2 linked regions of the Homo sapiens genome follow. The protein of the gene in region 2 purifies or fractionates together with the protein of the main gene of each other region. This does not show direct contact. Each region holds a gene or a part of one and is shown on either strand. Other genes may lie near its edges.

Region 1 (4,437 bases), on a different chromosome or scaffold from region 2:
CCCTCCCTCCTCCACTTACAGCCAGTCACCTTAATTTGATGGCTTTTTATTCACATTCATGTTTGTATACATTTACCATTTACTTATTATCCATAAAATATATATTCTTCTTTTGCATGTTTTAAAATTTTATATGAATGGCCTCTGTAGTTAACTTTCTGCATGCAATTTTTTTTTTTTTTTTCACTCAGCCCTGATGTGTATGAGGGAACAAATGCCTGAGGATCTTTCTCAGGTAGCTGAGCTGAAAAGCAGCTGGGCTTGAGGAGACCCTTTCCAGCCCCTTCCCATCTACTCACCCTGATTCCCACGGTTAGGGTCATTATCCAAATCATTCCCCTGGAAGTCTTCGGCCCGTTTATTACACATGAAAGGTGGGAGGGTGGCCTTGAAACCTAGAAAGAAGCAAAATGTTTATTCCTTAAGAGACAAGCTTGGGCCTGGTATGGTGGCTCATGTCTGTAGTACCAACACTTTGGGAGGCTAAGGCTGGAGAATTGCTTGAGGCCAGGAATTCAAGGCTGCAGTAAGCTATGATTGCACTACTGCCCTCTAGCCTAGGTGACAGACTGAGACTGACTCAAAAAAAAAAAAAAAAAAGGAAGAGACAAGCCGAGAGAAGGTAGGGTGGGTGTGTGTGGGGTGGGGGTAGGGGGGTTGCCGGGATGCCACAGAGACAGTTGGGCTCATCAGAACAGAAGCCTAAGGGAGAGAAACGTGCAGGATCCAGGTATAAGCTCCACTGTGGCCAGTCCCTGCCCTCAGCCCTGACAGGATACAGAAGAGCAGAACACCCAGAAGCTGCCTTGCGATTTTTCCCTGCACAAAAGGAAAATGTGAGGTACTTTCTGCAGCCTAAGAAGTAGCCAAAGCAGGAAAAGGGATGCTCATGTGTCCCCAGACTTGTCTGTTCCCAGAACTTTCTGTTACCTAGTTTAGTCATAGCCTCATACTTTCTCTTCATATACACATAGAAGATTTTCTCCGAGGCTTTCATCTTTTCCCACTCTTCCTTAGAGAAGTATTTGGCAATATCATCGAAGGCCTACAAAAAAAAAAAAAAGGAATTATGGCAGGGACTCAGCTAGGCATGTCTGCCATTCAGCTGGAGCCGCTTCCTGTGTGCTAGATCTGGGAACTGGGGATGATAATCCTTCCTGGTTGATGCCATGGCTAACTGACAGAACACGAGGGACCTTCCCTAGCTTCACCCCTGCCACACAGTAGGGCTTTAATGCTGCTGGCTGGCTCTCTTCCCACCTTCCAGAATGGACTGAGAGTCACCAGATGTAGTGCAAGGTCACAGACTTGTCTCCAGGGATGCTAGGTGATGACAGAGCGAGGGTGGGAGGCTCCCAAGGGTCCAGATCTCCCCCGAGACCCTGCTCCTTGTCTCCAGTATCTCTGTCCTCCCCTCCTCAGAAACCGGGTCACCCCACACTGTCCCCTGGGCCACTACTCTGCTCCCTCCAGGTCACCTCACCTTTTGGATCTTCTCTGGTATTTGAGCACCAACCGTGGGTCTCCTTGCAAAGGCGTCGTCTCCGTTCATGGCACCGGGAGCAGTCTGACCTGCAAGAGAAATAGCCTGAGTCTTTCCAGCCACAGCAGCTTTGATCCTGTGGAGGGAGAAGTCAGTGAAGGCCGGCCACCCTCAGTCACCTGGAATCAGCTGCTGCATTTCTCCATCCGGGGCTTATCTGTCCCTGAGTAAGGATATGGGGAGAAATCAGATGAAAACAGGGAACCAGGGGTCTCTGGGAGAAGTATTGATAGGGAATGACAGGTTTCCTATGGGCAAAGCAGCCTTGAGTCTTTGGGAGGGGGTTGGCTAATGTTGTTAGTAGTTTCCCTGGAGCTAGGCTTACCCTGAAAGATGTACGGACCCTTTTTGGGGAGGCAGGGACATGACTGTGTAATTTTATTCAGTGGGGGCATGCTGACACCCCCACTCAATAAATAAAGGAAGGGAAGTTAGTCCCAGAGATAACATGGTCTCTTTGGCGATGGATCTGATCAGGCAGAGGGATGGGGGGTTCTGTTCTGTTGAAGAGAAATGAGCATCGCTAATATGAACGTGTTCAGAGGCTATTACTCGGTGATTTGTAAATTATTAGAAGGAAGAGAGCTAGAATTTCTGAGACTACAAGAGCCCGCCATCACTTAGAGAGAATGTGGGGCATTTCAAGATGCAGCAATCAGCCAGGCGCCGTGGCTCACGCCTGTAATCCCAGCACTTTGGGAGGCCGAGGCGTGCAGGCCGCTTGAGCCCAGGAGGTCGAGACCCGGCTGGGAAACACAGCAAAACCCCCGTCTACAAAATACACAAAAAGTTAGCTGGGGTTGGTGGAGCAGGCCTGTACCATCCCAGCACTTTGGAAGGCCAAGGTGGGCGGATCGCCTTAGCCCAGGAGCTTGAGACCAGGCTCGCAAACGTAGCAAAACCATCTCTACTAAAAAAAACAAACAAAATTTAGCAGAAGCGGGGTGGTGCGCGCCTGTAGCCCCAAGGCCTAGGCGAGAGGCTCACTTGAGCCCAGGAGGAAAGATTTGAGTGAGCTTTTTTGGTTTTTGTTTTTTCAGACAGGGTCTCGCTCTGTTGCCCAGTCGGGAGTGCACTGGCGTGATCATGGCTCACTGCAACCTCCGCCTCTTAGGTTCAGGCGATCCACCAGCTGTGGCTTCCAAAAGTGCAGGGATTACAAGTGTAAGCCACCACGCCCGGCCCAAATTTCTTAAGTTACTACAGAGTTCCTAGGAAAAATCCCGTACCTGAAAAAGTTAGAAACTGACAGGAAAGATTCGAGATGGCGGCCTGCCTCATATACACTCCTTATTAAAACTAGATAGCAAATGCACCGCGGAGGAGGGGAGGGGTAGGAAGAATGGAAAAAGAAAATCGGCGTATGCTTACTCTGATTTTGGAAGAATCCAAAGAGAAAATCAGACCGTGCGTACTCTGAGTATGGAAGAATCGAAAGAGAGAGAAAGTCAGAGCATGCGTACTCTGAACTTAAAGTAGCCAATCCCAGGGGATGCTTTAGGCGGGAAAATTAGAGTCTCCACCCCCACTTTGAGAAGGTTCCGTCCCTGGAGCCGGGACTGATAGAAGCCACATCCGCTTCGCTTGTTCCGCCTACTGTTCTGACTTCTAATTGGCCAGATGGAGTTCACTAACTGCCCTGATTGGTCCATCATCCTTGGGCAGTGACATAGCAGAATAATGTCTCCTCCTCCAGCCACACTTTGTTGCCACTGCGAAAAAGTGGGTGGTCCTCAGGCGCCGTCAGATTTTGAACTCTCTGAAGACCGTTCCTGGATCTTGGGTTAAAAATCTGGATTCTAGTCTGAACTGTGGGAAGAAAAAAATAGTCAATCTGTGATTTTTCTACTTGAAAGACACGATGTTTTCCAAACTAGCACATTTGCGGAGGTTTGCTATACTTAGTCGTGGCTTTCATTCTTCAGTGGCTTCTATGTCTGTTGCCACTGAAAAAACAGTCCAAGGCCCCGCAACCTCTGCTTACATTTTTGAAAGGGAATCTTAAGTATGGTGCGCACAATTACCATCCTTTACCTGTAGCCCTGAAGAGAGGAAAATGTATTTACTTATGGGATGTGATTGTGGTATTGGTTACATCTGCCTTGGCCAATCCTCCAGCCTCCGTCTTGGGACTACAGGCGCGAACCACCCTACCCCCACTAATATTTTTTATTTTTTGATTTTTTAATAGAGAAGGTTTCGCTGTGTTGGCCAGGCTGGTCTTGACGTCGTGGGCTCAAGCGATCCTCCCACCTCGGCCTCGGGACTACAGGCATTCACCACCCAGCCCACGCTTTTTTTTTTTTTTTTTTTTAAGTAGAAACCAGGTTTTGCTATGTTGGCCAGGCTGGTCTCATCGTCCTGGGCTCAAGGGATCCTTCCGCCATGGCCTCGAGACGACAGGCATGCACCACCCTGCCCACGCTTTTTTTTTTTTTTTTTTTTTTAGTAGAAACCGTGTTTCCCTATGTTGGCCAGGCCGGCATCAAGCTCCTGGACTCAAGGGATCCTCCCATCTCAGGACTACAGCCATGCACCACCCTGCCCAAGCTATTTTTTGTTTTGTTTTGTTTCGTTTTAGTGGAAACCGGGTTTCGATATGTTGCCCAGGCTGGCCTCAACCTCTCAGGCTCAGATGATGCTTCCACCTCGGCCTCAGAACTATAGGCGTGTGCCATTCTACCCCGCTCATTTTTATTTATTTATTTATTTATTTATTTTTTAGGAGAGGCAGGCTTTCGCTTTGTTGGCCAGGCTGGTATCAAACTCCTGGGCTCAAGCAATGCTCCCACCTTGGCCTCAAAACTACAGGAGTGAGCCACCCCGCCCACGCTATTTTTCTGTTGTTCTTGTTGTTAGCAGAAATGGGGTTTCGCTATGTTGGCCAGGCTGGC
Region 2 (4,199 bases):
CAATCATCTATTAATTGCTTAACTGTAATCCAGGCTAACTACAAGTCTCATAATATTTAATACTCACAACCTAAGAGGTAAATTCTATTTATGAGAGTAGAATAACTCAGGCTAAGAGAGGTTAAGTATCTTGTCCCAAATTGCAGTTCCAATGGTAGAGCCGGGAAACAAAACCTAAATCCATCTGGCTGTGGAGGTCAATCTCGTATTCTCTATGTGATATTGCTGACAAAGTCAAAGTAAGGAAAGACATATCAAGGGAAGGCAATGGAAGCACCTTTTCTTTATAGTACATTCACCTACCTTAACAGACCAAGATAACATAGGAGAGAAACTGGGGCTTAAGTCCTTGATAGAGCTTCTGGGGGCACAGTAGTTATAGGGCCAGGTCAGAAAATGTCCTCACACACTAAGAAGGCATTTTAAAATCAGAAAAGACAGTCACACTCACTTTGGTCACCAAGTCATTTAGCCATCCTGTCTGGAAAGCATGTTTTCCTCTGGGGTCTTCCTCTGGGGTATCTTGGGAAAGGGTAGAGTTTTGAGGAGCTAGAGAAGAGAAAGAGGTCATGAGGGAGATTAGTCCTTTCTGAATAGCCTAGGAAACCCCTCACCAAATAGATGCCTACACTTTCTTAAATCGAGAAGTAAGAAGGAAATCAAAAACAGCACTCCTACTTCAAAGCATCAGAGGAAAGGGCCAATGACTTGTCCTAAGACATCAAAACAGACTTCAAAAACAAGCTCGCTCTAAAAATCTTAAAGAGTATGAACAAAATTCACATTTTAACTAAATCCTTATGTGATATTAATTTTGTGAGTTATCTCTTAATAAGGGAATGTTCTCTAGACCCTTTCTTCCTTTTTTGGAAGTATTTTATTGTAAAATTCAATTCACAAAGCAAATGATTTATTAGTAGAATGGTGCAAACCTCTGAAGGTACTTTCTGAGGGCTCACACAGTGGTAATTTGGTTGCGTCTGGTCATTATTTCAAGACGTTTTTCTTGGGGGTTTAGATAATGTGTGTTTGCTCCCAAGCAATCTGGAAGGAGAACACCATGCAGGATGGAGCTCATGTTAAAGCCTTGTTCTCACTCACTAACCTTTGTTCTCCCCAGTTTCTTTCTTTTTAAAAAATGCATCCTGGACCTCTCAGTGCTCTCCCTGATTTCTTTAAAGGAGCTGCTCAGATGTGCTAGTTGTCTTCTTTAACCACCCAGGGATTCCTCCCCTCTCTGCTCTATGATTCTCACCTTCCTCTTCTAGAATCTGAGTCAAATCCTCCACCAGAGTCACTGCTTCCTCGCTGCTCTCTGGATACTGGGACTTTACCCAAGTCCTAACCTCACCAGGCAGGATGGTCAGGAATTGCTCCAGCACCAGCAGCTCCAAAATTTGTTCCTTTGAGTGAATCTCAGGTCTCAGCCACTTAAGGCAGAGCTCTCGGAGTTGACTCAATGCCTTTCGAGGACCAGCCAGGTCTGGGTATGGAAAATTCCTAAAATTCTGTCGACAGGTCTCAGTGTCACGCAAGAATCTTGAAGTAAGGATTTCCTTCTCAACATTGTAGGGTCCACTCTGAGCCTTGTCTGACTTCCACCTTAGAAGGATTTGAGAACGTGAAGAACTGTTCATCCTCTTGCTTGAGGCTAACATTGCTACAGACAGGAGAGTCAATCTGGCAATATCCTTTATTTCTCCAGTAGTGAGCCAACTGCTTGAAGTCTCATGCTAGAGTCACAAGGACACTATATCAAAGGCTGCTGCAGCCGAGGGCAGAACAGAATCAAGGTAGAGTTAGCAGCCTTAGTGACAAATTCTGAGCCCAGAACTTGCAGGGATGGATAAGAGACCCTGAAACACAAGCATGGACCACAAGGTCAAGAATCCCTGGTGTACTCTACTATACATATACACACACAGAAACAGACTCGCAGTGTGCATAGATGAACACACATAAGCTTTACCTTGTCTTCCTCCCCTATATCCTTAGACTTGTAAGGGAACTGCCATCTGCTTGGGGTTGGTGGGGGATGGAGCTGCTATTAAAAAGGTAGTGTCAGAGGCAATGACTCGAATCTAAGCCAAACAACAGATTAAACCTCTAACCTGTTGTAACAAAAATTAAACATTTTTATAGAGAAAATAGTTTCATTATTTTAGTCACTGATGTTACAGAAGCTGTAATGACTGAACGGACTCTCAACAATAACAAAGTGAATCTGTTACTTGGAAGAAACTAGGAGAATTTCTTCTTAATACAGTGCTCAAGGTTCCCAAGGGAACTGTCAGGGGAAAGGGCGAGCCATTTATCTGCGTTGCATGTTAATGCCAGCCGATTCTAGCCTTTCACTATCAGAGGGTTGGGAAGACCAGCGGGTTGGACTGGAAAAGAGTGAAGAGGTTGGTGTGACTTCAAGTCCTTTAAGTGCTTCTATAGGAGACAGTTCTTTAGGGATATATTCGAAACCAGGATTCTCGAAGGAAACCTTAGAACCGGCCTGATCTGGAGGAGAACCGACACCACCTCTCCCCAGGCTCCAGCTCCGAGCCCTGCTGAGGCACAGTCGTGCCACCAAAGACAACTGTTTACAAGGCCCTGCGGAGGTGATGCGACAGCCTTGCCTTGCCTCCTGTCGCCTCCCCTTCCCGGCCAAGTCCCTCTGCCTCTTACTCCTCTTCAGCCGCAGGGTCGAGGTCGAGGGCAGCGGGGGAGTCGGGGACCGTGCGACGCGCAACGCTGGGACTGGGCCCACAGCAGCCTCCACCCCGTCTTTGCCCTCCCGCAAGCCACGAGCACGGGAGCCCGCGCGTGGACGGGCTCGGGCTGTCACTGATCGCGCGGACACTCGCGCGCTGCGCCCGGACATCAATACCTGTCGCTGGGACCCGGCCGACGGGCAGCCGGAGCGGCCCTAAGGCCACAGGCAACAATGGCGACGCTGGCACAGGCGCCTGCGTGGCGGGCTCAGTCCCGAGCGGCAGCGGATCCTCGGGCTCCGCCACTTCCCTTCCCCGCAAAGCACAGAGTGTCCCGGCCAGGAGCTGCACGTTCCAGCCCGGTCCTGAGAAGCCCGGCCCAGAAACCCCGGCGCCTCTGCTTAGCCGCGACCTCGCCTCGGCGTCACTGCGCATGTGCGCCAGAGGAACGCTGCGCGCCCGCAGAGCCAATCGGAGCCCAAGCTGCCGCCTCCCCCTCCCGCGCCTCTGGCCCTGGACCTGTCTCCATGGCAACCTCCTCCACCCATCGCTCTGACTTGCTTGTCAGCCTGCGAGGTTCCGAAGGGAACTTCAAAGTTTCCCCGGGCAGACGCAGGTCTGGTAGACGTCTTGGAGGCCAGGGAGGTGCCAGTAGCTGGAGGAGCGCCGGGAGTTGAAGCCCCGCGCCAACTACGCAGAGAAAACTGGGCGCCAGATTTCCTAGAGGAAGAATGGGCAGGGAAGATGTGGGTCTAAAGGCAGAAAGACTTAATGTGCGGTTTCGGGCTTTACTGTGCATACATACTAACTGTGAAAGGTTTTCACTTCCTCCTCAGGAATTTGATTCTGAGACTCTCAGATTGGGGGAAAAAAACCCATGTTCTTTCTTTCTTTCTTTTTTTTCTTTTGAGACGGAGTCTCGCTCTGTCGCCCAGGCTGGAGTGCAATGGTGCGAGCTCGGCTCACTGCAACCTCCGCCTCCTGGGTTCAAGTGATTCTCCTGTGTTCAAGTGATTCTCACTTGAACTTCCTGGGTTCAGCCTCCCGAGTAGCTGTTATTTCTAAGAGACACAAAACAAAAATACATAAAACACTGGAAAAATAAAAGCATAGAAAAACATATTCAAGGTGTTCCCGTTATCTACTGTTCTATTAACAAACCACCCCAAAACTTAGTGGTTTTGAAGGACAATCACCGTATTATGCTCATAAATTTCATGGTGAGGAATTTGAAAGGGGAACTGAGTGGGTGGGCCTTTGCCTCATTATGTCTGTAGCCTCTGTTGGGATGATTTGATGGCTGGGAGGGCCCGCTTCCAAGATGGCTTTTCCACTCACATGTCTACTGCTTGGGAGGAGATGGGCTAAAAGATGAACTCGGCTTGTGTTTGACCAGAGTGCCTCAATGTGGTCTCTCCAGCATAAAGGACTGAGGGCAGCTGGACTTGTTACATGGTGGCTCTGGGCTCCAAGAGTGAGCATTCCAGTGAACAAGAG

Evidence for each region.
Region 1: the proteins of ZNF287 (region 2) and SSX2B purify together in Homo sapiens (affinity purification with mass spectrometry, with the first as the bait; one large-scale study listed by BioGRID). This does not show direct contact.

The regions. Positions count from the first base shown.
Region 1 is NC_000023.11:52,749,796-52,754,232, reverse strand, and holds the start of SSX2B (protein SSX2), read right to left. Parts: upstream 2,982-4,437; 5' UTR 2,915-2,981; intron 1,573-2,914; 5' UTR 1,553-1,572; coding exon 1,484-1,552; intron 1,046-1,483; coding exon 931-1,045; intron 396-930; coding exon 300-395; intron 1-299.
Region 2 is NC_000017.11:16,566,074-16,570,272, forward strand, and holds the start of ZNF287 (zinc finger protein 287), read right to left. Parts: upstream 2,628-4,199; intron 2,042-2,627; exon of another isoform or gene 1,970-2,041; intron 1,857-1,969; 5' UTR 1,659-1,856; coding exon 1,256-1,658; intron 550-1,255; coding exon 452-549; intron 1-451. UniProt on the Homo sapiens protein: May be involved in transcriptional regulation.